Linked DNA regions of Homo sapiens. The protein of the gene in region 7 purifies or fractionates together with the protein of the main gene of each other region. This does not show direct contact. Each region holds a gene or a part of one and is shown on either strand. Other genes may lie near its edges.

Region 1 (4,019 bases), on a different chromosome or scaffold from region 7:
TGAGAGAGCCTGGCCCCTCCCCAGAGCCAGCTGCAGAATGGACCTGGCCAGAGAGGAAAGTAGAGATGAGTATGGTGCTGGCCTTTGCAGCCAGCAAGGCTGTGGGGTCTTTGCTGTTCCTGTCCCCCACTACCTTCTTGCCCCCCACTACCTTCTTTCTGGCTGAAACCAGGATAGAGACCCAATATTGGCTGTCCAGCCCCCAGCCCTGCTTCCCCTTTCAGGCCCCTCTGGGAACCACAGAAATCTGGGACCTAGTGTCTTGGCAACGTAATGAATGCATGCACAGCTCTGGTATCTGTTTTAAATTATCCATTAAAATAAGTACAGTTCTGGGGGAAAAAAATAAGTTGACTGGGTGCGGTAAGCAGTAGAAAGGGACTGAAGGGGGAAGGAACCCAGGCAGTGCTTGGGTCCAAAGGAAGGGGACAGGAGATGGAAGGGGCAGTGCCTGGCTCCTATTCTTGGCTTTCTTTAGGGGACTTCTTTAGGGGACTGTGGCTTGTTGCTTGGGTCTAAAAACGAATGCTTGGCTTTGAAGAGAGATAGATTGGGGCAAAAGAAAGAAAAAAAGGGACCCCCCAAACTCCTTGATCCCTGGCCCCAAACTGGGGGCATAAAGGAACTCAGGTTCCAGAACTTTGCTCCCCCCAGGGAACCCAGGCATTCCTTCTCCACCCCACTCCTGGCACACTGAGATGCAGCTCTGAATGGGCTGCCCACGTGTGGAGGGGGGTTGGGGTGACTCACTATTACTACTGGGAGGACAGGGGGAGCCAGTGGTGGAAGAAGGGTGAGTCACACTGATGGGCACCAGCCTCAGCCCTCCCCCCACTTTCCTGGCTCCCAGCCCTGCCTACCTGACCCTCTCCCTTGCTTTGCGCCCACTTCCCTCTCTTTCTCCCCGACCCTTTTGCCCACCCACTCTCCCTCCTTGGCTCTGCCCTCTAGCCCAGAAGGTCTGAGGCAATGGGGGCAAGCTTGGAGCCGACAGTGCTGAGCAGGCAGGAGCCAAGAGAGGGGAAGCTTGAGCCTCACGCAGTTAGGGGTGCGCTGGAGAGGGTGGGGCCCGACTCCGCCACACCCCAACGGTCCTTCCCCCTCCTCACCACTCCCGCCCCCACCCCCAATGGATCTGGGACTGCCCCTTTAAGAGTAGTGGCCCCTCCTCCCTTCAGAGGAGGACCTATTAGAGCCTTTGCCCCGGCGTCGGTGACTCAGTGTTCGCGGGAGCGCCGCACCTACACCAGCCAACCCAGATCCCGAGGTCCGACAGCGCCCGGCCCAGATCCCCACGCCTGCCAGGAGCAAGCCGAGAGCCAGCCGGCCGGCGCACTCCGACTCCGAGCAGTCTCTGTCCTTCGACCCGAGCCCCGCGCCCTTTCCGGGACCCCTGCCCCGCGGGCAGCGCTGCCAACCTGCCGGCCATGGAGACCCCGTCCCAGCGGCGCGCCACCCGCAGCGGGGCGCAGGCCAGCTCCACTCCGCTGTCGCCCACCCGCATCACCCGGCTGCAGGAGAAGGAGGACCTGCAGGAGCTCAATGATCGCTTGGCGGTCTACATCGACCGTGTGCGCTCGCTGGAAACGGAGAACGCAGGGCTGCGCCTTCGCATCACCGAGTCTGAAGAGGTGGTCAGCCGCGAGGTGTCCGGCATCAAGGCCGCCTACGAGGCCGAGCTCGGGGATGCCCGCAAGACCCTTGACTCAGTAGCCAAGGAGCGCGCCCGCCTGCAGCTGGAGCTGAGCAAAGTGCGTGAGGAGTTTAAGGAGCTGAAAGCGCGGTGAGTTCGCCCAGGTGGCTGCGTGCCTGGCGGGGAGTGGAGAGGGCGGCGGGCCGGCGCCCCTGGCCGGCCGCAGGAAGGGAGTGAGAGGGCCTGGAGGCCGATAACTTTGCCATAGTCTCCTCCCTCCCCGGAACTGCCCCCAGCGGGTGACTGGCAGTGTCAAGGGGAATTGTCAAGACAGGACAGAGAGGGAAGTGGTGGTCTCTGGGAGAGGGTCGGGGAGGATATAAGGAATGGTGGGGGTATCAGGGACAAGTTGGGGCTGGGGCCGGCCTGAATTCGGTCAGATTGGGATTTGCCAACTATTTGGAGCCGGGGGGAGGGGCTTGAGCAAAACAGAACTAGCCCTGCCAGCTCGAAGAACTCTGGGCACCCAGGACACATCGGAGTGGCAGAAAGGGTCCTGTTAGAACTTTGTTAGCGGGCTTGGCACTGTGCTAGCTTTGCCCAAGCTGGCTCTGAACACATGATGCCCACTAAGACATAACTCTCAAGTTGGCATCTGTCCAGCGTGTTGGAGCGAGGTCAGGAAGGCAGGGCAATCCCCCTTTTCCCTCCCAAGGGCTTGGCGGTGGCCCCCCCTCAGCATGACCTTGTCCTGGGTTCTAAGGGTTGGGAAGTTCTCCCTCACTCTGCCACTCTGCGTGTCTGGGACCTTCCTTGGGCTCTGACAGGCCCACCAAAAGAGCTCCGGGAGATGAGAGATCGGCTCCCCCGCAGCTCCCACAGCCCTTGGCCTGCTTGGCCCAGGAATGCAAGGGAGGGAGGGAGGCAGAGGGCAGAGGCTCCCAGCTCAGGAAGTTGTGTTATGCCCAGGTCTGGCCGCACTCCTCCCTTGGCCCTCTGCCTAGTGTCTTCGAGGGTTGGGGGCACTGTCCTTCCCTCCTTGGGGTGAGCCACTTTCATTTTCCCAGCGGGGCCAGGCAGTCTTTGCTCGGGCCCATCCTCTTAGCTGCTGACGTTTTGATCTTTGTCTTATTGAAGTGCTGGAATACAGTGACATTTTTGAAATCCAGCCGTTGGAAGATTCAGGCCACTCCCACTTTACCCACCCCTGCCCCACCCTACCCCACCCTACTCAACTGCACCTTCTTCTTTTCTAAAAAAGCCTTTGGGAGCTTGGAAGTATAGGCCCTCTCTTCCAGCCCCATCAAAATTTGTTTCCCTTCTTCCTGCCTTCCCTTTCTCTATGCAGACCCAGGCCAAGAGCACTAAGGGTGCTTGGAGATCCGTAAAGGGCTGTTGGCTTTGACTTCTTCTCTCTCTTTTATCATCTACTCCAAACTTCTGCTCTTCCTAGAACCCTTTGCTAGGTGTGGTTTTGTTGCCCAGGCTGGAGTGCAATGGCACAATCTCGGCTCACTGCAACCTCCGCCTCCCAGGTTCAAGTGATTCTCCTGCCTCAGCCTCCCGAATAGCTGAGATTACAGGCATGTGCCACCATGCCGGGCTAATTTTGTATTTCTAGTAGAGATGGGGTTTCTCCATGTTCGTCAGGCTAGTCTTGAACTCCCAACCTCAGGTGATCCACCCGCCTCAGCCTCCCAAAGTGCTAGGATTACAGGCATGAGCCACCACGCTGGGCCCATCACCCTTCTTTCTGAAGAGTCAATGGAAGTTGTGTGTAGGAAGACAGGCTTAACGGTTTTTTTTTGAGACAGGGTCTTACTCTGTCACCCAGACTGGAGTGAAGTGGTGCGATCTTGGCTCACCACAACCTCTGCCTCCCAGGCTCAAAAGATTCTCCTGCCTCAGCCTCCTGAGTAGCTGGGATTATAAGTGTGTGCCACCACACATGGCTATTTTTTTTTTTTTTTTTTTTTTTAATTTTTAGTAGAGATGGGGTTTCACCATGTTGGCTAGGCTGGTCTCAAACTCCTGACTTCAAATGATCCACCTGCCTCGGCCTCCCAAAGTGCTGGGATTACAGGTGTGAGCTACCATGCCCGGCCATCAACCTTTATTTTGTTTTTTTGAGACGGAGTCTTGCTTTGTTGCCCAGGCTGGAGTACAGTAGTGTGACCTCAGGTCACTGCAACCTCTGCCTCCCAGGTTCAAGCCATGCTCCTGCCTCAGCCTCCCAAGTAGCTGGGACTATAGGTGCCTGCCACCACGCCCGGCTACTTTTTATATTTTTAGTAGAGACGGGGTTTCACCATGTTGGCCAGGGTGATCTCGAACTCCTGACCTCAAGTGATCTGCCTGCCTCAGCCTCCCAAAGTGTTGGGATTAG
Region 2 (3,500 bases), on a different chromosome or scaffold from region 7:
TTTTTTTTTTTTTCTCTCTGTCAGCCAGGCTGGAGTGCAATGGCGTGATTGCGGCTCACTGCAACCTCTGCCTCCCGGGTTCAAGCGATTCTCCTGCCTCAGCCTCCCAAGTAGCCAGGGTTATAGGTGTGCACCACCATGTCTGGCTAATTTTTTGTATTTTTAGTAGAGATAGTTTTCACCATGTTGGCCAGGCTGGTCTCAAACTCCTGACCTCAGGTGATCCAGCCACCCACCTCAGCCTCCCAAAGCACTGGGATTATAAGCGTGAGCCGCCACACCCGGCCTTCTTTGATGCTTTTGCTAGCCCCTTACAGTCGACACCTTGGGCAGCTTTTTACCATGAGCCTGCAATTGGAATAAGATTTTCCTCTTATGTCCTCACAGAAATACCTTGTACTTTTCTTTCATAATGCCCATCAGTTTGTAACCACATACATGTGTGGATAATGATTGTTTACTGTATCTCTCCCCTGCTAGAATGTATCTGTTTTGCTCACCCCTGCTCTTGGCACGCAGCAAGTACTCAGTAAATTTTTGTGGAATAGGCTGGATGTGGTGGCTCACACCTGTAATCCTAGCACTTTGGAAGGCTGAGGCAGGAGGATTGCTTGAGCTCAGGAGTTCAAGACCAGCCTAGACAACATGAAAAAACCCCGTCTCTACAAAAATACAAAAATTAGTTGGGCATGTTAGTGTGTGCCTGTAGTCCCAGCTACTTGGGGGGCTGACGCAGAAGGATCACTGGAACCTTGGAAGTTCGAGGCTGCAGTGAGCCAAGATTGTGCCACTGCACTCCAGCCTGGTAACAAAGTGAGATCCTGTCTCAAAAAAAAAAAAAAAAAAAAAATTAGGGAATGCTCTGCCTAAGTTTCACTGCTGCTTATTGGACATTGCTTCAGGTACCACATCGAGGTGAACCGTGTTCCTGCTGGCAACTGGGTTCTGATTGAAGGTGTTGATCAACCAATTGTGAAGACAGCAACCATAACCGAACCCCGAGGCAATGAGGAGGTAGAGTTTCTGAAGAGACCAACTGGGTTGGCTTAAGCTAGATGGTCCCAGGGACACACATGAGCACAAACGGGACTAATCCACAGTCATTGCCATGTCCTGGTTTCAGGCTTAGCCTTCTAGATATGACCCTGCTGGATTCTCCCTGTACTCAGTTCAGATGCGAGGAATTAGGACGGGTGCCTTTTATTATTTTCCTCCTCTCTTTGTTCTGCCAGAATACCTGGGAAGAAATGGCCCTTCAGGTTACCCCCACTCAGCACCAGGCTCCTGGTTGGGGAATACATAGTCTGATCCTAAGCAAGTCCTCTTCTCTTCTCATACCTCTGCACTTTCTGTGCCTGCTCATGCCAGTTGCCCTCAGTCCTTTGTGCTTTGGATCTCAGGCTCAGATTTTCCGACCCTTGAAGTTCAATACCACATCTGTTATCAAGATTGCTGTGGAGCCAGTCAACCCCTCAGAGCTGCCCAAGATGCTTGATGGCCTGCGCAAGGTCAACAAGAGCTATCCATCCCTCACCACCAAGGTATGCCCATGGCCTGCAGCAGCCGCCAAGCCCCACTATCCCCAGCTGAATGGGCAGAGCTGCACACCGCTTCCCATCCATCAGGTGTTCATGATCTGCTGCTTACAGGAAGCTGTGTCAGGAGCAAGCCCAGCCTATGGCTGTCATGTCAAGGCAGGACAAGACACGTGTGTGTGTGTATGTGTGTGTGTTAAAACAAGACCTGTGTAGGAGGGGGCAGTGATGGGGGGTATAGGACAAGGTTGTGTGTGTGTGTGTGTGTGCGTATTTGTGTTCCGCAGATGTCTTTATCTAGACAAAAATACATTTCTTAATGAGTATACTTTGAATTGATTTTCTCGAGAAGAGAAGGAAAAGTGAGTTGTTACTCTGATCCTTGTACACTATGAGCCTGCCAGTGTACCTTTCCAGGTAGCAGGCCAGGAGGGCTAAAGGGCTAGCTTATGTCCATGGGTATAGGGTAGAGTTTGACCTAAATCATTAAGATGGGAATTAAATCATTGACTTCACACCTAGTATCACCATGCTGAGTGGTCCTGGTGTCTTGAGGACCCACTCATAGGCAGATGCTCCTCACTGAACCTTCTTGAAGAGGCTGGAACAGATGCTAAGTAGTAGCTGTTTCTGATAGGCAACTTCTTGTCTGCTCTGGCCTTGATTTTGTTTGTGTGTGCCTTTGCTGGCATAAGAGAATCCAGGCTGTGACTGCCTGTTGTGTTTCAGGTGGAGGAGTCTGGCGAGCATGTGATCCTGGGCACTGGGGAGCTCTACCTGGACTGTGTGATGCATGATTTGCGGAAGATGTACTCAGAGATAGACATCAAGGTACAGCAGTATCTGCCGGGAGCTGGGTTCACGGTCCAGACTTTTCACAAGTGACCAAATCCTTGAATTCCTGGGAAGCTCCAAGGGAAGAGAGAGTACATGTGTTTGTGAAAACCATGATCTGTTGCTCCTTATATGGGAAGGTTTTTGAGAACTGGTTTGCCCCCTTCTGCTGTGTCATACGTTTAAAATCAAGGCTCAGCCGTGCTTGGTGGCTCACTCCCAGCACTTTGGGAGGCCGAGGTGGGAGGATTGCTTGTAGCCAGGAATTCAAGACCAACCTGAGCAACAAAGTGAGACACTGCCTCTACAAAAATTAAAATAAAAAAAATAGCCAGGCCGGGCATGGTGGTCCGTTGCTGTAATTGCAGCACTTTGGGAGACTGAGGTGAGAGGATTGCTTGAGCCCAGTTTGAGACCAATCTGGGCAACATAGTGAAACCTCGTCTCTACAAACCAGCCCAGTGCAGTGGCATGTACCTGTAGTCCAGCTACTGGGGGGCTTAGGTGGGAGGATCACCTGAACCTAGACTGTCAAGGCTGCAATGAACTGTGATTGTGCCATTGCTCTCCAACCTGAGCCTAGGAGGTCATGGCTGCAATGAGCAATCATTGTGCCATTGCTCTCCTTTTTGAGATGGAGTCATACCCTGTCTCAAAAAACTAAAAAATAAAAATTAGTCAGGTGTGGTGGCTTGCACCTATAGTCCCAGCTACTCCGCAGGCTGAAGCAGGAGGATTGCTTGAGCCCAGCAGTTCGAGGCTGCAGTGAGCTACGATCATGCCACTGCACCCTAGCATGGGTGACAGAGCAAGACCCTGTCTCAAAAAATAAATGCATTGAAAAATAATAAAACAGGCCGAGCACGGTGGCTCACGCCTGTAACCCCAACACTTTGAAAGTCCAAGGCGGTTGGATTGCTTGAGGTCAGGAGTTCAAGACCAGCCTGACCAACATGGTGAAACTCTGTCTCTACTAAAAATACAAAAATTAGCCAGACATGGTGGCGGGCACCTGTAATCCCAGCTACTCAGGAGGCTGAGACAGGATAATTGTTTGAAACCGGGTGGCAGAGGTTGCAGTGAGCCAAGATCGCACCATTGCACTCCAGCCTGGGTGATAGGGCGAGACTC
Region 3 (3,500 bases), on a different chromosome or scaffold from region 7:
CACCACACACCCAGCTAATTTTTGTATTTTTAGTATTTTAGTAGAGATGGGGTTTCGCCACGTTGGCCAGGCTTGTCTTGAACTCCTGGCCGTAAGTGATCCACCACGCTGGCCTCCCAAAGTGCTGGGATTACAGGTGTGAGCCACTGCACCCGCTCTGTTTGTTTTTTAATAATAGTTCCCATTTCTTAAACGCTTAAGTACCAGGATAGAGCTAAGCACTTTACAGACACTTCCCCTCAATACTCAAAACAGTCATGAACCCTGTCTGGTGGATAATGACATTGAGGCTCAGACAAACCTTGTTAGCTGGGAAGCTGAGTTGGGAATCCAGGTCTTCCGACCCTGCAGGTCATATTCTTTTCCCTTGGGGTGTGCAGAGTATTTTCACTAAAGTTCTTCAGTTTAGCTCCAGACTCACCAAGAGACAAGATAGAGATTGTTTTAAAGAAAAGAAACCTAATCTTGCAAAGGGGGGTGACTTGTACAACCTCACAAGGGGTTATCAGTGGTGAATCAGGCCAGAATCCAGGAGCCCAGATGCACAGGTGACATTGTCTGGACAGGCCTAGGGATAGCAGAGCATAGTTCTTGATTGGCTCCGAGCTCCCTAGGCATAATGACCACCTCCTGTTTTGTAGGGTCCAGTGTCCATCAAAGTCCAGGTGCCCAACATGCAGGATAAGACGGAATGGAAACTGAATGGGCAGGTGCTGGTCTTCACCCTCCCACTCACGGACCAGGTATGGGTACTGCCAGAAACTGGCATCAGGTGCATGGGAACCAAGCATTCAGGGGAAAGCTTCCTCTAGCTGGCCTTACCAAGGAGTTGAATGACCGCTGCTTGATCCCACAGGTCTCTGTCATTAAGGTGAAGATTCATGAAGCCACAGGCATGCCTGCAGGGAAACAGAAGCTACAGTATGAGGTGAGTCAGTTTGTCCACAGACCTGTCCCTTGGGTCCTGACACCTCTGCTTTCACAGAAGCTAAATCTGTCATGGAAGCTAAAAGGGGAGTGGAGTGATATCTGGGTGTGGCCATCTGAATCCATCCTAGAAGTCATGATGCTGGCTGGGAGTGTTGGGGCAGGTGTGCCCAACAATGCAAGGCTCTGGTGGGGTCACAGTAGAGTCTTGTGTGGGATCTGTAAGATTCTTTGCCTCAATGACTGGGCATAGAGATTTAGTGACAAGACTTAGGCATGCTCTGGTGGGTTCCTGATCCAGTGGTTGGGCCATCCCTGCCAGTATGACCTCAGGCAGCCTGACTTGGAGGTGATAGTCTAGCCCCGCCTGATGCCAGGTCACATGGAGGCATTAATGTTCTTCTTCTCTGAACTTGAACAAATCCCTGCTCTGGGCCTCAGTTATCTCTATCCATTGAGGCTGTTGGGCTAAGTGATCCCTAAAGGTCTTGTGATTTCAGAGTCAGAGCTCCATGGAGTTGGTGAGGGGCCAACTTTTTGGGGAGTTGAGCTTTTGAGTCAAATGTTGACAAAGGGGAGGAGCGTAATTGGTGGGAAGAAAGGAAACAGTGGGAGGAATGAGAGGCCTCCAGTCCCCAACACCCTACCTTCTCACAAGCTCCTGTATTTGCTAAGTCCAGAGCGCAAACAGACCAAGTGCACAGTTGTAAGGTTGCAGCGGTATCCCCAAGGCTGGGTTGCCCCATGCTAAGGCACGCTGTCTGTTTTCCAGGGTATCTTCATCAAAGATTCCAACTCACTGGCTTACTACAACATGGCCAATGGCGCAGTCATCCACCTGGCCCTCAAGGAGAGAGGCGGGAGGAAGAAGTAGACAAGAGGAACCTGCTGTCAAGTCCCTGCCATTTTGCCTCTCCTGTCTCCCACCCCCTGCCCCAGACCCAGGAGCCCCCCTGAGGCTTTGCCTTGCCTGCATATTTGTTTCGCTCTTACTCAGTTTGGGAATTCAAATTGTCCTGCAGAGGTTCATTCCCCTGACCCTTTCCCCACATTGGTAAGAGTAGCTGGGTTTTCTAAGCCACTCTCTGGAATCTCTTTGTGTTAGGGTCTCGATTTGAGGACATTCATTTCTTCAGCAGCCCATTAGCAACTGAGAGCCCAGGGATGTCCTACAGGATAGTTTCATAGTGACAGGTGGCACTTGGCTAATAGAATATGGCTGATATTGTCATTAATCATTTTGTACCTTGACATGGGTTGTCTAATAAAACTCGGACCCTTCTTGTGAAATCAGTTAAATAAGACTTGTCTCGGTCACCTGTGCCCTGTCCAGACTCGAGGCAGTGGTAACACTGCACAGTGCTATGTGGCTTCTCTTTGAGGATTTTTGGGTTTTGTAACTAAATTCTTGCTGCCCTCATACTTTTTATGTATTAGAATCATATTCGTATTGCCCTTTTAAAACATTGGGATCCTCCAAAGGCCTGCCCCATGTATTTAACAGTAATACAGGAAGCATGGCAGGCACCATGCAAACCAAGGATGGATGGTGCAGTCCCTGTGTCAGTGGGCGGTGGTTTCCTGCTGGCCTGGAATCACTCATCACCTGATTGATTGGCTCTGTGGTCCTGGGCAGGTGCCTCATAGGTGTGTGGATATGATGACGTTTCTTTAAAATGTATGTATTTAACAAATACTTAATTGTATTAAGGTCATGTACCAAGGATTTGATAAAGTTTAAATAATTTACTCTCTACTTTTATCCATTTTATCCATTTTAACTCATGTAATCCTCATGTGAGTATTCCTGTTTAACACTTGAGTAAACTGAGGCACAGAGAACATAAGTTGCATGCCATAGTCACACACTGTGAAAGTGAAAAGAGAATGTGTGCAAAACACGTCACAGTCCTGGTTTCTGAGTAAAGGCAGGCTGTTATCTTTAGAATCAAGCTATCACAGGGAGATAGGCAATGCTGTGGGTGTTGGAGGAAGGTGAGAGCCTGTTGCTAACAATTTCCTGGTTTTAAAGCTAAGGCTGATTTTATTGGGAAGATCTCACATGTGTGTGGCCCCTGAGAGTTCCCAGTGCCTTTTATTTGCAGTCCTTCCATTTGGACCTCCTAGCTGCCCCATCAGGTCATCTCCAGGGCTCAGAGGGGTGAGACCATTTCCCAAGGTCACAGAACCAGCTCTCTAGTCACCACCCTGCCTCTCCCTCTCACCCAGAGTCAGTACCAGTTTTATGGCTTTATTACAAACTGCTGGGTCCCTCCCATTTTCAACTTGATTGATGGGATGTCATCCCTTATCCTGTCTGACATTTGCCTCTGGCCTGGTTGCTAGAAGTTTGCCCCAGGGGCAAGAGTTGAAATTTGGCTTCCTGAGGTGGGCTTTGTGGTTTGCGTCCCTAAAGTGAGCCCACTACTGGTTGCTTGTCCATGGCCAACACCAGAAATCCCCTGAGCACTACCTGGGTCTCATTCCAAGAAGGAAGAGGGTCAGGAGACCTGGGGAGTCTCATATTCCAAGTTCTTCTTTCTTTCTGGGAGCAGTGGGCAGTTCATGGTGTT
Region 4 (3,500 bases), on a different chromosome or scaffold from region 7:
TTTTATTTTTTGAGACAAGAGTCTCTTGTTTCCCATGTTTCCCAGGCTGGAGTGCCATGGTGCCATCTTGGTTCACTGCAACCTCCGCCTCCCGGGTTCAAGTGATTCTCCTGCCTCCCAAGTAGCTGGAATTACAGGCTCCCACCACCACACCTGGCTAATTTTTGTGTTTTTTTTAGTAGAGCTGGGGTTTCACCATGTTGGTCAGACTGGTCTCGAACTCCTGACCTCGGGATCCACCTACCTCGGCCTTCCAAAGTGCTGGGATTTAGAGGCGTGAGGCTATTGCACCTGGCCCTGGACACATTTTTTTTTAAACCATATTTTTAGAGTTGGGAGAAATGTTCTTTACTACGGGACTAGGCAGTGCGCACTGGAAATACCATGTGCCTGCAAAGTGAAAATAGAAATTGATGCGTGGATACTTAGCCATAATTGTATAGCCATCACAATCTTGTAATGAAGTCGCCTACATGCTGTAGACAGTTGACTTCCATTTTGTGTGTTTTTTAAGAGCAATTTGAGTTTTTGAGAATGGCACCATTAGTTTACATGGTTTTGGGGTTAAAAGTCTTACTACTAAAAACAGTAAATTATACTGGCCGCAGCAGAGGTGCTTGCAGTTACATTTAGCCATTATTAGGTATCCTGACTTCAGCAGTCAGTGGAGACATTGTATAAGAATAAACATCCCTTGAGTCAACACTTTATTACACACTGGTGCAGTAATTTGCAGTTATTTGTTCTATCCTTTGTTCTCTTTTTTTTTTTTTTTTTTTAAGTGACAGGGTCTAGATCTGTGGCCCAGGGCTAGAGTTCAGGGGCATGATCATAGCTGACTGTAGCCCCAAGCTCAAGAGATCTTCTCACCTCAGCCTCCCAAGTAGCTAGAACTACAGGTGTGTACTACCACACCTGGCTAATTTTTTTAAAAAATTTTGTAGAGGCAGAGTTAATCTCCCTGTGCTGCCCAGGCCGGTCTTACAATTCTTAGCCTTAAGCAATCCTGCTTCCCAAAATGCTGGGATTACAGGCATGAGCCACCATGCCCCAGTTATCCTTTGTCTTTTAAGAATTCCCTCTTTGTTACTTACAGGTTAGGTGTCAGACACCACTAGTTGAGTTAAATTGAGGGTAATATGAACTGCCAGGGAGCTATGAATATTATTGAAGGATAAGTGGTCTTAGAGAAGAGAAAATAGTTAGGATTCATTTTTCCTCTGGCCTATAAATTCTCATTGGGTTAGCACTTTAGATTAACACATTCAGATGGTATTCAAGTTATTTTAGGAGGAAGTGATAATGTTAGTGAAGAGGTTAAATTTTGTAATTTTACTTTGAGAAGCTTTCAGGATTGAGAACAGTTTGTCTTACTAATATTTTGAACAGTCCTTCCCCCTTTAAGATTTCAAAAGCAGGTCCTAATTAGTTTTGGCCACTCTTGTTAAGTGTTAAACATTCAATAACTCTCTTAGAGGGCATGGTATTTACTTTGTTAGGAAAAATTATCTTTTTTATTGCAAAATAATTACTAATTGGTAATTATTACTGATGTAGCCTGTAGTCTGCATTTTCTTTTTCATAGACTTCATTAGAGCAGTTTTAGGTTTACAGCAGAAAGCACAGAATTGCCATATGACTTCTGCCCCCTACACAGGCACAGCCTTCCTCACTACCAGTATCCTGCACTGGAATAGTACATTTGTTAAAATTGATGGACGTAGATTGATTACCTAAAGTCCATAGTTTACATGAGGTCTCACTCTAGATGTATGTTCTGTGGGTTTGGAGAAATGTATAACCGTGTTTCCATCATAGTATTATACAGAATAGTTTCACTGCCCTAAAAATCCTCTGTCCTGTGCTTAGTCATCCCTCCCCATTCAACCACTGGCAGTCACTGTCTCCATAGTTTTGCCTTCTCAGAATGTTACATAGTTGGAACCATACATTATGTAACCTTCACATTGGCTTCTTTCTCTTAGTAATACATATTTAAAGTTCTTCTATGTCATTTTGTGGCTTTTAACTAGTTTCTATCAGTTATAATATTCCTTCTGTATGTGCCACAATTGTCCATTCTCCCATTGAAGAACATCTTGGTTTCTTCCAATTTTTGGAAATTTTTTTGTTTTTCTTTTGAGACAGAGTCTCGCTGTGTTACCCAGGATGGAGTGCAGTGGCACGATCTCGGCTTACTGCAACCTCTGCCTCTTGGGTTCAACCATTTCTCATGCTTCAGCCTCCCGAGTAGCTGGAACCATAGTTGCGTACCATCGCACCCGGCTAATCTTTGTATTTTTGTAGAGACGGGGTGTTACTGTGTTGGCCAGGCTGGTCTCGAGCTCCTGACCTCAGGTGATCTGCCCGCCTCAGCCTCCCAAATTGCTGGGATTACGGGTGTGAGCCACTGCGTCTGGCAAATTTTTGGCAGTTACAAATAAAGCTGCTATTAACATCTCTCTCTAAGTTTTTGTGTGCATGTAAGTTTTCAACTCTGGGTAAATAAGGAGCAGGATTGCTGGGTCATATGGAAGTGTGTGTTTAGTTTTGTAAGAAATCGCCAAACTGTCTTTCAAAGGGGCTATACCCTTTTGCATTCCCACCAGCAATGAATGAGAGTTTCTATTGCTCTGCATTCTTACCTGCATTTATAGTGTGTTGGATTTTGGCCATTCTAATAGTTTTGACTTGCGGTTTCCGAATGACAGATTATATTGAGCATCTTCATGAGATTCTTTGCCATCTGTATATCTTTTTTGGCAAAGCATCTATTTCAGGTCTTTCAACATGATCCAGCAGTTCTGCTGCTTGATATTTACCCAAGGAGTTGAAAACTTTTTTTTTTTTTATATTCTGACATTCTTCTAATGGATTGTGATTTGAGTTAACTTTGTAGGGTGGGGTGGTGGTATCTTAGAAATGGAACTCTTTGGAAATAATACAGGGGGGTATTTTCTTCCCCCTAGGTAAAAGTGCTGTTTGTACGCAACCTTGCCAATACTGTAACAGAAGAGATTTTAGAAAAGGCATTTAGTCAGTTTGGGAAACTGGAACGAGTGAAGAAGTTAAAAGATTATGCGTTCATTCATTTTGATGAGCGAGATGGTGCTGTCAAGGTAAATATGGTGGAATTACAGGCATCTAAATCAGACTAACAAATTTAGTCATTTTAGAATCTCAAAATAGTTTTACAAATTGGAGGAGACTTTGGAAGTCCATGGAATCCATTCAAACTAAAACCTTTTGGTTTTAGTGATGTTGGCAGTTTTCTAAGTAAAAATGAAAAATAATTGAATATCTGCATCTTTAAATAAAATTATTTGACTGCCTGCATGGGGCTTTCTCTTGTCCTTCCCACATTAATGATAAATGATATTCCAACTTTAAATGAATCATAATTGTATGAAAGTCCTATTTTTATATTGACTTATCTAATTTTTTAAGGCTATGGAAGAAATGAATGGCAAAGACTTGGAGGGAGAAAATATTGAAATTGT
Region 5 (3,500 bases), on a different chromosome or scaffold from region 7:
TTTTCCTTGTTCTTGTAGACATGCGTCGGGATGTCCAGGAAATTTTTCGCATGACCCCCCACGAGAAGCAGGTCATGATGTTCAGTGCTACCTTGAGCAAAGAGATCCGTCCAGTCTGCCGCAAGTTCATGCAAGATGTAAATACCCTTCTACCTTCTCTCCCTCCACTCCCCGCCCGCTGCCTCCTCCCCTTCCTCGCCCTCTTCCTCAGACTCCCTTGTCATTCAAGTGCCAAGAAGGCGGCTTGTGCCCAACTGGGAGTAATGACTCCTTGAAGAGACATACAGAAGCAGAGACAGCTAGTGTTAGGGCCTGCGCGGGTGCCAGGGAAACTCCGGAAGACTTGGTCGGGTTAATGTGAGAGCGGGTAGTGTTCGACTTTTTCATAAATCACAACATTTTTGAACCTCTTCTCCCTTTGGGGGAGGGCAGGATTTTTCTGCCCTACCACCCACCCATCCATCGTCTCTTACATGCACCCTACAGCCACGCACCCTCAAGGTGGCATCGAGCGTACAGCTGGAGCCTTCTGCTCACCAAAACTCCTACTTCCCGGTGGCAGGAGAGCAAGAGAGGGACAGACAGATGGCAGGGCATGTCCAAAAGAAGAGCATCAGCACAAATGAATCCTCCCCTTCCCCACCTCCAGGGGTGGGGGCCTTTGGCACCTCAATCCCCGATACCCTACTCCTTCCCACCCACATCTCCTTGCACCCATCTGGAACCTCGGTTGATGTGAGCCGGCAACAGAGAAGCACCGTGGCGCGGCGAGGGAATGCAGACGGCACCCAGCGGTGGATGGCGGCAGCGGAGGCCGCGGGGAAACCTGACCAGGAAGCTGAGGACCAAACCAGCCTCTTTTTCCGTTCCCGGTTTTTTTCCTGAACCCAACGCGTGCCGTGCCCCGTTTCCCCCAATATGTGTTGGGGAGGGGTGTCCTGAATGGGGTGGTAGATTTTTTTTCTTAAAAAAATTTTTTTGTTTTTTTTAATACTCAGAGGAGAGGGACATAGGAAAGGTAAAGTGGATGTAATCGGGTGGTTGTTAGGGTTTGGGGCTAGGTGGGGCCAATTGCATAAGCAGTGGAGTGTGTTCTTCCCCTCCCTGCAGTGTTCCTTCCCGTGGGATGATCACTCTTTAGCTGTATTTGGGGCTAGAATGAGATTTGAAGGAGGCCATGGAACTTCTCTTTAGAAAGCCTGCCTTGGCTGGGCCTGGTGGCTCACCTCTAATCCCAGCACTTTGGGAGGCCAAGGTGGGAGGATTGCTTGAGCCCAGGAATTTGAGACTAGCTGGGGCAGTGTAGTGAGACTTTGTCTCTACCAGAAAAACCGGGCGTGGTGGCGCATGCCTGTAGTCCCAGCTACTTGGGAAGCTGAGGCAGGAGGGTTTGCTTGAGCCCGGGACGTGGAGGTGGCAGTAAGCTGTAATTGTGCCACTGTACTCCAGCCTGGGTGATAGAGAGAGACCCTGTATCAAAACAAAACAAAAAACAAAACCTGCCTTCTGGGATTGGGCTTCTGGTTTTTTTCCCATGACACACGCATCCTTTCCTATTTTGTCCTCTGGGTCTTCATATTAACTATCTTCCCCCAGGATAGTATAAAAAGTGTTAGGAAAGTTGGGCTTTGGAGTTGTGGTAATTTCTGTCTTTGTTACTTTCCTCCCCTTCAGGGGGTTTTTTAATTTTAAAGATGAATGCAGTGAGGTATAATGGTGTGTGCCTGTAGTCCCAGCTATTCAGGAGACTGAAGCAGGAGGATCACTTGAGCCCAGGAATTTGAGGCTATAGTGTGCTATGATTGTGCCAGTGAATAGCCACTGCACTCCAGCCTGGGCAACATGGTGAGATCCTGTCCCTTAAAAGTGTATCTGCTGCTCTGAATTTGGTATTTTAACACCACTTACTGATACCTTTCCTGTAAACCTGTAGATGGTTTAATTCTTAGTCAAGAGACCAGTCTCATCTAAAACTATCCTGTTGTGGTCTGACGGCAAGTAACTCATCTTGAGTAATTTTTGTTTCTCCTTAAGTGGCATTTTGACTGTCCATTGCAGCATTCTGATCTTAAAAGACATCCACTTTGCTAATGCACACGAGATTCTCTTAGTTGAAGTAGGAGAATCAAATGGAGCAGTTGTCCTCCCCCCACCCCATGTTCTTAGAAGCACCTCTGATGGAGTTATTCTGACCTTGAGTCACTGCCTCCCATCATTTCCCAGATGTTTGGTCCTTGCTCTCCCTTTGAGAATCATCTCCCATTTTCTTTCCTCTCCCACCTCTATTTGAGGTAATGGCATCTGTGCCATTGGGTGGTTTCACTGCTCCTTGACTTCATTTGCAGTTTCTTTCCCATGATAGTTTTTAGTTGGGCAGTCTTAAAACTCATCTGATAGGAAGGAAATTAGATGTAATGTGAGAGAGACCACAGTAAAATGTGGGTATTTTTGGGAGTGGGGTGGGGTTTTCAATCTTCTCTTTCCTCCCCATCCCCCCATGGGGTGTATTGGAGATCAACTTCCTCCACCCCCCCAGGTTTAACCCCCCCACTCTGCCCTCCTCCCGTTCCCCACCCCCTTCCTCCCCCCCAGCCAATGGAGATCTTCGTGGATGATGAGACGAAGTTGACGCTGCATGGGTTGCAGCAGTACTACGTGAAACTGAAGGACAACGAGAAGAACCGGAAGCTCTTTGACCTTCTGGATGTCCTTGAGTTCAACCAGGTCAGTTAGACGTCCAGTAGGGGGATGAGCATTGGAGCACTCCAGCTGTAGCAGAAACCTGGATATTAAGTACACTTTTATTGAGGAAATCACATGTGTGATGTGGGAGAGAATAATGAGGGTATAAATATCTTAGGGGCTGAGCATGAGTAAGGTGGGAGCTGCTTTTCTATTCTATGGCTGGCACGGGTATGTCCTCAATAACCTCAAGGAAAATAAACTTCAAAAATTAAGATCCTTGGCCAGGCACGGTGGCTTATGTGTGTAATCCCAGCACTTGGGGAGGCTGAGGGAGGTGGATCACTTGAGTCCAGGAGTTTGAGACCAGTCGGGGCAACATGGCGAAACTTCATCACTACCAAAGAAGAAAAAAATTAGCCAGGTGTGGTGGTGTATGCCTGTAGTCCCAGATACTCTGGTGGCTGAGGTGAGAGGATAGCTTGAGCCCAGGAAATTGAGGCTGCAGTGAACTATGATTGCACTACTGTGCTCCAGCTTGGGCAACAGAGTGAGATCTTGTCTCCAAAAGTCCTTGAAGGATTTTAGGAAGTTGTTAAAAGTCTTGAAACGATGTTTGGGGGCATGTTAGGGTTCTTGAATGTTTAATTCCTCTAATAACTGCTTATTCAAGAGAAGCATTTCTGACTGGGTGCAGGGCAGTGGCTCATGCCCATAATCCCAGTACTTTGGGAGGCTGAGGCAGGAGCATTGCTTGAGCCCAGGACTTCAAGACCAGCCTGGGTAACATAGGGAGACGCCCGTCTCTACAAATAGTA
Region 6 (3,500 bases), on a different chromosome or scaffold from region 7:
TAAGAAACTATTAACTTGACAAATAACCTTTTCTCTTTTCCATCCATAGCGAAAAGGAAGAACAAAATGAACAAAGGTTTAGTTTGGAGAAGTAATAAACTAAATATTTCAAACAAGCATAAAATATTCAGCATGCACTAAGGGCCAAAGACTTCAACAAGACAAAAGGATTTCATGAACACACCCTGCCGCTATCTTTTCTAAGTGTGTTTAACATTTTATCTTACAATCCTCTAAGGAAGTTTGTTGGCAAAAATTCCCAAAGCACAGACGCAAGTACCTTAGAATTAGGAAGTTTGCAGTCACACCATCGTCCATCTATCATATGTCGCTGTGACATTACTTTCACTTGTGTTTCATATTCCGTAAAACGAACAAAGCCAAACCCCTTTGAATGACCAGTCTTAAGATCTTTCTTGACCTAGAAAGGATGATACAAGTTTACTCTAAAAGTGCACATACTCACACACTCCATTCCCAAATCATAGTTCCTTAGAAAACAATTTGAATGGTTTCAACTGGATGCAGTGGCTTAAAACTTAAACCAAGTTAGTCTTAACAGTAAAAACAAGGAGGTTAATATTGAATCCATACTGTGTTAACAACAGAGCAAAACTCACTTATACAACAGAAATGTTTTTGAGTTTTTTAAAAAAGAGAGATGGGGCCAGGCGCGGTGGCTCACACCTGTATTCCCAGTGCTTTGGGATGCTGAGGAGGGTGGATCGCTTGAGCACAGGAGTTCAGGACCAGCCTGGGCAACACAGCAAAACCCTGTCTCTACAAAAAATACAAAGATTAGCCAGGTGTAGTGGCATGCACCTGTAGTCCCAGCTACTTGGGAGGCTGAGGCACAAGAATAGCTTGAACCCAGGAGGTGGAGGTTGCAGCGAGCCTACATTGCACCACTGCACTCTAGAGCCTGACTGACAGAGCCAGACCCTGTCTCCAAAAAGAAAAGAAAAAAAGAGAGGCCAGGCACAGTAGCTCACGCCTGTAATCCCAGCACTTTGGGAGGCGGAGGCGGGCAGATCATGAGGTCAGGAGATCGAGACCATCCTGCCTAACACGGTGAAACCCCATCTCTACTAAAAATACAAAAAATTAGCCAGGCGTGGTGGCAGGCACCTGTAGTCCCAGCTACTTGGGAGGCTGAGGCAGGAGAATGGCATGAACCCGGGAAGCGGAGCTTGCAGTGAGCCGAGATCATGCCACTGCACTCCAGCCTGGGTGACAGAGCAAGACTCCGTCTCAAAAAAAAAAGAAAAAAGAGAAACTGAGTCTGGATATGTTCGCCAAGGTGGCCTTGAACTCCTGGCCTCAAGCAACCCTCCCACCTCAGCCTCCCAAAATGCTGGGATTACAGGCATGAGCCACCACAACAGGATTTTAACAGAATGTCTTAGAATGAATTCAAAGATAAACTAAATTTAATGTTTACAAATTTTAAATGAAATGGAAAAACCTCCCATTAGTTTAATATATAAAGAAAAGCTATTGTCACCTACTTCCCTTAAGCCTTCATGCAACAGTAGGATTTTACAATATCAAAGGCAATAACATAGGGTACAACATATATGTATAAATATAACAAATATTGGAAGTATCATCTGTGTAACAGAAAGGACAGTGCCATTAAAATAACAAGAATGTGGCCGGGCGCGGTGGCTCACACCTGTAATCCCAGCACTTTGGGAGGCCAAGGCAGGTGGATCACTTGAGGTCAGGAGTTCAAGAACAGCCTGGCCAACGGGTGAAACCCTGTCTCTACTAAAAATACAAAATTAGCCAGGCATGATGGCGGGCACCTGTAATCCCAGATACAGGAGGCCGAGACAGGAGAAATCACTTAAACCCGGGAGGTGGAGGTTGCAGTGAGCCAAGATCGTGCCACTGCACTCCAGCCTGGGCAGCAAAGTGAGACTTGGTCTCCAAAAAAAAAAAAAAAAAAGAAAGGTAACAAGATTGTGGCTGGGCATGGTGGCTCAGCACATTGGGGTCGAGGCAGGAGGACAGTATGGGCCCAGGAGTTTGACGCCAGAACCTAGGGAACATAGTGATACCCCATCTCTATTTATACCAATAAATAAATGCTAGATACTCATTCACTGGTAAAGAAAAACTGTTTGATGCAATCGAAGTTTACCTGCACCATAAGAACTTCTCCAAAGGTACTAAAATACTCTTTCAGGTCCTGTTCGGTTGTTTTCCATGGGAGACCCAACACTATTAAATCGGATGTTTTCTGGACTGCTCTTTTCACTTTCACTGCTGATGAAGCATCTGTCTCATCCATTTTTCTTTTGTTATCTAAATAAAACGAGCAGAAACCTTTTAGAAATCTTCACTTAGCACTTCTTTAAAAACACTACCTCCTACATCTAGAAATGAGAAGCAAAAAGAAGACTCTAAGAAGAATAAGACACTGAAAACTTGGCAAGAAGTGATGTTTGCTCTAGAGGACAGAATAAAGGCTTAAGTTTAGTGTCTGAGGTGCTTTTCTGGTGCAAATTCAGTGATTTCCAAGTTTGTTTTTTGTAGCATTTCCGGATTACAATCTCTCCCTCTCAAAAGGTTTATCAAAACAAAAATAATTCTACTTCACTTTGACTTTAAATATCAGCAACTTGTATATCCTGATGAAGATTTAACTTTTATCTTTCCTAAACATTCAACAACAAATACACAACTTTTGTAATAAAACAGAAAACCAGGTACAGTGGTGTGTATGCCTGTAAGTTCCAGCAACTCAGGAGGCTGAGGAGGAAGGACGACTTGAGTCCAGGAGTTTGAGGCTGCAGTGTGCCTATGAATAGCCACTGCAATATGCCTGGGCAACAGAGCGAGAGCCTCCATCTCTAATTTCAAAAAAGAAAAAGAAACCAAAAGTTTGGCTTACTTAAAAAAACATAACTGGCTGGGCGCGGTGGCTCACACTTGTAATCCCAGCACTTTGGGAGTCTGAGGCAGGTGGATCACAAGGTCAGGAGTTCAAGACCAGCCTGGCCAAGATGGTGAAACGCCGTCTATACTAAAAATAAAGAAAAAATTAGCCGGGCGTGGTGGCAGGTGCCTGTAATCCCAGCTACTTGGGAGGCTGAGGCAGGAGAATCGCTTGAACCCAAGAGGCGGAGGTTGCAGTGAGCCAAGATCGTGCCACTGCACTCCAGCCTGGGCGACAAGGGCGAGACTTCGTCTAAAAAATAAATAAACAAATAAAAATAAATAAATAAAAATACAAAAATTAGCCAGGCGTGGTGGCAGGCACCTGTAATCCCAGCTACTCATGAGGCTGAGGCAGAGAATTGCTTGAACCTGGGAGGCGGAGGTTGCAGTGAGCCAAGATCGTGCCACTGCACTCCAGCCTGGGCGACAGAGTGAGACTGTCTCAAAAAACAAACAAACAAACAACAACAAAAAAACCCCCCAAATAACCTCAACCTTAGGTTATTTAGAAGAGAAGGGGAGATAATTTTTTTTTTTTGAGACGGAGTCTCATT
Region 7 (3,320 bases):
GGCACGGTCAAAGCTGGCACCGCCACCGCCACCCATGGCCAGGCCCATGCGCTCAATGCCAGCGCCCAGGGCCGGGCCCATGGCAGGGCCCATGCGCTCGAGGCTGTTGGCACCCATGCGCTCCAGGCCCATGCGCTCGAGGCTGTTGGCGCCCATGCGCTCCAGGCCCATCCGCTCCAGATTGTTGGCGCCCATGCGCTCCAGGCCGGTGGCCATGCGATCCATCACGGGGCCCATGCGCTCCAGGCCAGCTCCCATACCTGCGGGCACCATGCGCTCCATGCTCAGGCCCATGCGCTCGATGGCAGGGCCCATGCGCTCCACGCCAGAGCCCATGCGCTCAATGGTCTGGCCCACACGGTCGATGGGAGCGGCCATGCGCTCAAGGCCGAAGCCCATGCCGGCACCCATGCGCTCCACGCCAGAGCCAATGCGCTCCATGGTCTGGCCCATGCGCTCAATGCTGGAGGCCATGTGGTCGAGGCCCAGCGGGCCCATGCGCTCAATGCCGGAGCCCATGCGCTCCACGGAGCCCATGCGGTCCATGACCAGGCCCATGCGCTCGATCTCGGAGCCCACGCGATCCATGCCGTGGCCCAGGCCCGCGCCCATGCGCTCCATGCCGGCACCCCCGAGGCGGTCAATGCCAGGACCCATCCTCTCGATCCCAGGGACGCTTCCTCCACCTCCACCTGAAACAGGGACACAAAACACAGGTGGGTGTCAAGAACTTGAGTGTGCGTGTGCACAACACGCCAGACCACTTCAGCTCATGGGCATGGATCAGGGGTAAAGGCCCACCATAATTTACCATTAAGACACCCCTCAAATGTTGACAACAGCTACAGCTGTGTGGTGGGCACATGGGGGCCTCCCAGCATTCTCTCTGCTCTATGCCACAGCTGAGATTTCCATAACACAACTTCTAAAGAACACCCCTGTATGTGTGTCTGTGAGGTGCTAGTGTCTGTGACAAGCTTTGTGAACCATGGACGTCAATTCCTGAGACATCTGAGGTTTCTCCATCAGCAGACACTGAGAAATGCTCCAGGGGGAGGCATGGACACCCCCCACTCGGGGGGCCACCCAGGGTAATGAACAGGAGTTATGTGGAGACAAGTCGGAGTCACTCCCACCTTCCCCTCCCAGCCTGTCCCTCTAGGATGCTCTGCTGGGGGCCACTCTGGCTGCATTTCCTCAGCGCTCCCAGGGCACAGAGAAAGGATTTTCGGCCACACCATCAAGCAGAGGTCAAAAAAACACACACCGAGAGATCCTCTGTGTACAAATGCACACAGCTGGCCACTTTTGGGGACCCTATTGTCAGGGAAACCAAATGACTTGCTGGCTTTGGAAAGAAGATGTTGATGGCACTGCAGAGTGGGCTCTGGTAGCGGCTGGGGGTCAGTCAGCAGAACGAAGGGACGCCCCCACCCGTGGTGCTTGCAACTCTGGAAAGCAGGGTCTGGCTCCGTCAGCAAGGCCACCCCTTTCCACATGCCGAGTTTGGGGCTCCTCCCCGAAACCCTGTCGCTTGCCTCTGAGAGTGGCCATCAGCCCAGAGCCAGCCTGTGACCGACCCAAGCAGCCTAGTCAAAGATACCAATTCAAGAGGAAACTGGGCAGTTTCTCTAACTGGCTCTGTAACTGGCCACACCGCGCCTGCTTCTCTAGCTGCACAGCACACAGTGAGCGGCCAAAGCAGGCCCGACTCTAAGAATGTGTGACTTTCAGAGGGGAGACGTCTCAGAACTTCCCCACAGTATAAGGAACCTAGCGAGAATGGGCACTTTGCCCAAAGGCATCAGAAATGAGGTGGGGCAGCTGGGTGTGGTGGCTCATGCCTGTAATCCCAGTACTTTGGGAGGCCAAGGCGGGCGGAACAAGGTCAGGAGTTCGCGACCAGCCTGGCCAACATGGTGAAACCCCATCTCTACTAAAATTGCAAAAATTAGCTGGGTATGGTGGCGTGCGCCCGTAGTCCCAGCTACTTGGGAGGCTGAGGCAGGAGAATCGCTTGAACCCAGGAGACGGAGGTCACAGTGAGCCGAGATCGTGCCACTGCACTCTAGCCTGGGCGACAGAGTGAGACTCCGTCTCTCAAAAAAAAAAAAAAAAAAAGAAATGGGAGGAAATGGTACCAGCGTGGAGCTCCAGAGCCAGCCCAACACAGAAGTCAGGAGGTGAGATGCCAAGATACTCAGAGGGAAAATCAGGCTGAAAAAGTACATTTGGGCCAGGTGTGGTGGCTCACATCTGTCATCCCAGCACTCTGGAGGTATGCAGGTCACTTGAGGCCAGGAGTTTGAGATAAGCCTGGGTAACATGTCAAAATGCCATCTCTACAAAAAAAATCAAAAAATTAGCCAAACCAGGTGGCACACGCCTGTAGTCCCAGCTACTTGGGAGGCTAAAGTGGGAGAATCGCTTAGGCCTGGGAAGTTGAGGCCGCAGTGAGCAGAGACTGCACCACGGCACTCCAGCCTGGGAGACAGAGCGAGACTGTCTCCAAAAATGCTCAAAAAGTACATTTTGTTCTCAGTATCCATAAAGCTGTGTATGAATGAAAGATTCAGAACAAAATGTTTCCGGCAGTCATCACTGGGCGATGGGGTTTCAGACCATACTTTCTTCATATTTTCCTAATGAGTACATTTATCTATTTTACAAGCATTTATTACTTGTTGGGTGGTGTGCTTTCAGTCTTATCATCAAGTCTAAGGAAAATATATTTACTTTTAGGAATTTATAATGTGGAAAACAAAACCCCCAAAAGAGAGGTACTCTAACAATGAAGATGGTCGGCCTGTGCACAGCACGTGCGGAAGCACTCTTTCACATGCATTCACTCTCCACAGCATCCCTGAGGCAGGTACTATTACACCCCCATTTTACAAATGAGTGCTATGAGAAACAGAGAGGTTCAGTGACTTGCCAAACGTCACACAGCTAGAAAAAGGCAGAGCTGCTCCCACCCCGGGCAGTCTGTGTCAGAACCCGCACTTCTCACCACTAAGCTCTACAGTCCCCAGCGATAACAGCCTGTTCTAAAAAAACAAAACATCAAACTAAGCGGTTCCTACCTCCTCCCTGCTTTGCAATGATCTCTCCTCTCTTCAGTGCATTACTTAGGATTTCTAAGGAAATCAGGAAGAAAAAAAAATTAGCCAAATTCCTCTATGGCAATAGAAATGTGCTCATTACAGATTCCAGAGTAGAAATACTACTAATAAAAATGACAAGATAAAGGGAAAGGGGTTTGAGAAACACACGCACAGACAAGATCATTTTACAGAGAACTAGGAGAGTCCTTGATGCTG

Evidence for each region.
Region 1: the proteins of HNRNPM (region 7) and LMNA fractionate together in Homo sapiens (co-fractionation; 3 studies listed by BioGRID, with this or other methods). This does not show direct contact.
Region 2: the proteins of HNRNPM (region 7) and EFTUD2 purify together in Homo sapiens (affinity purification with mass spectrometry; 2 studies listed by BioGRID, with this or other methods). This does not show direct contact.
Region 3: the proteins of HNRNPM (region 7) and SF3A1 fractionate together in Homo sapiens (co-fractionation; 2 studies listed by BioGRID). This does not show direct contact.
Region 4: the proteins of HNRNPM (region 7) and SYNCRIP fractionate together in Homo sapiens (co-fractionation; 2 studies listed by BioGRID). This does not show direct contact.
Region 5: the proteins of HNRNPM (region 7) and DDX39B purify together in Homo sapiens (affinity purification with mass spectrometry; 4 studies listed by BioGRID, with this or other methods). This does not show direct contact.
Region 6: the proteins of HNRNPM (region 7) and TARDBP purify together in Homo sapiens (affinity purification with mass spectrometry; 2 studies listed by BioGRID, with this or other methods). This does not show direct contact.

Annotation. Positions count from the first base shown.
Region 1 is NC_000001.11:156,113,492-156,117,510, forward strand, and holds the start of LMNA (lamin), read left to right. Parts: upstream 1-1,219; 5' UTR 1,220-1,427; coding exon 1,428-1,783; intron 1,784-4,019.
Region 2 is NC_000017.11:44,857,946-44,861,445, reverse strand, and holds part of EFTUD2 (116 kDa U5 small nuclear ribonucleoprotein component), read left to right. Parts: intron 1-902; coding exon 903-1,014; intron 1,015-1,400; coding exon 1,401-1,541; intron 1,542-2,264; coding exon 2,265-2,366; intron 2,367-3,500. UniProt on the Homo sapiens protein: Required for pre-mRNA splicing as component of the spliceosome, including pre-catalytic, catalytic and post-catalytic spliceosomal complexes. Component of the U5 snRNP and the U4/U6-U5 tri-snRNP complex, a building block of the spliceosome.
Region 3 is NC_000022.11:30,332,895-30,336,394, reverse strand, and holds part of SF3A1 (splicing factor 3A subunit 1), read left to right. Parts: intron 1-641; coding exon 642-743; intron 744-856; coding exon 857-928; intron 929-1,699; coding exon 1,700-1,801; 3' UTR 1,802-3,500. UniProt on the Homo sapiens protein: Component of the 17S U2 SnRNP complex of the spliceosome, a large ribonucleoprotein complex that removes introns from transcribed pre-mRNAs.
Region 4 is NC_000006.12:85,618,887-85,622,386, reverse strand, and holds part of SYNCRIP (heterogeneous nuclear ribonucleoprotein Q), read left to right. Parts: intron 1-2,969; coding exon 2,970-3,119; intron 3,120-3,447; coding exon 3,448-3,500. UniProt on the Homo sapiens protein: Heterogenous nuclear ribonucleoprotein (hnRNP) implicated in mRNA processing mechanisms. Component of the CRD-mediated complex that promotes MYC mRNA stability.
Region 5 is NC_000006.12:31,532,004-31,535,503, reverse strand, and holds part of DDX39B (spliceosome RNA helicase DDX39B), read left to right. Parts: intron 1-18; coding exon 19-137; intron 138-2,592; coding exon 2,593-2,724; intron 2,725-3,500. UniProt on the Homo sapiens protein: Involved in nuclear export of spliced and unspliced mRNA. Component of the TREX complex which is thought to couple mRNA transcription, processing and nuclear export, and specifically associates with spliced mRNA and not with unspliced pre-mRNA.
Region 6 is NC_000001.11:11,015,654-11,019,153, reverse strand, and holds part of TARDBP (TAR DNA-binding protein 43), read right to left. Parts: intron 2,311-3,500; coding exon 2,147-2,310; intron 422-2,146; coding exon 281-421; intron 1-280. UniProt on the Homo sapiens protein: RNA-binding protein that is involved in various steps of RNA biogenesis and processing.
Region 7 is NC_000019.10:8,482,975-8,486,294, reverse strand, and holds part of HNRNPM (heterogeneous nuclear ribonucleoprotein M), read right to left. Parts: intron 3,138-3,320; coding exon 3,084-3,137; intron 693-3,083; coding exon 1-692. UniProt on the Homo sapiens protein: Pre-mRNA binding protein in vivo, binds avidly to poly(G) and poly(U) RNA homopolymers in vitro. Involved in splicing.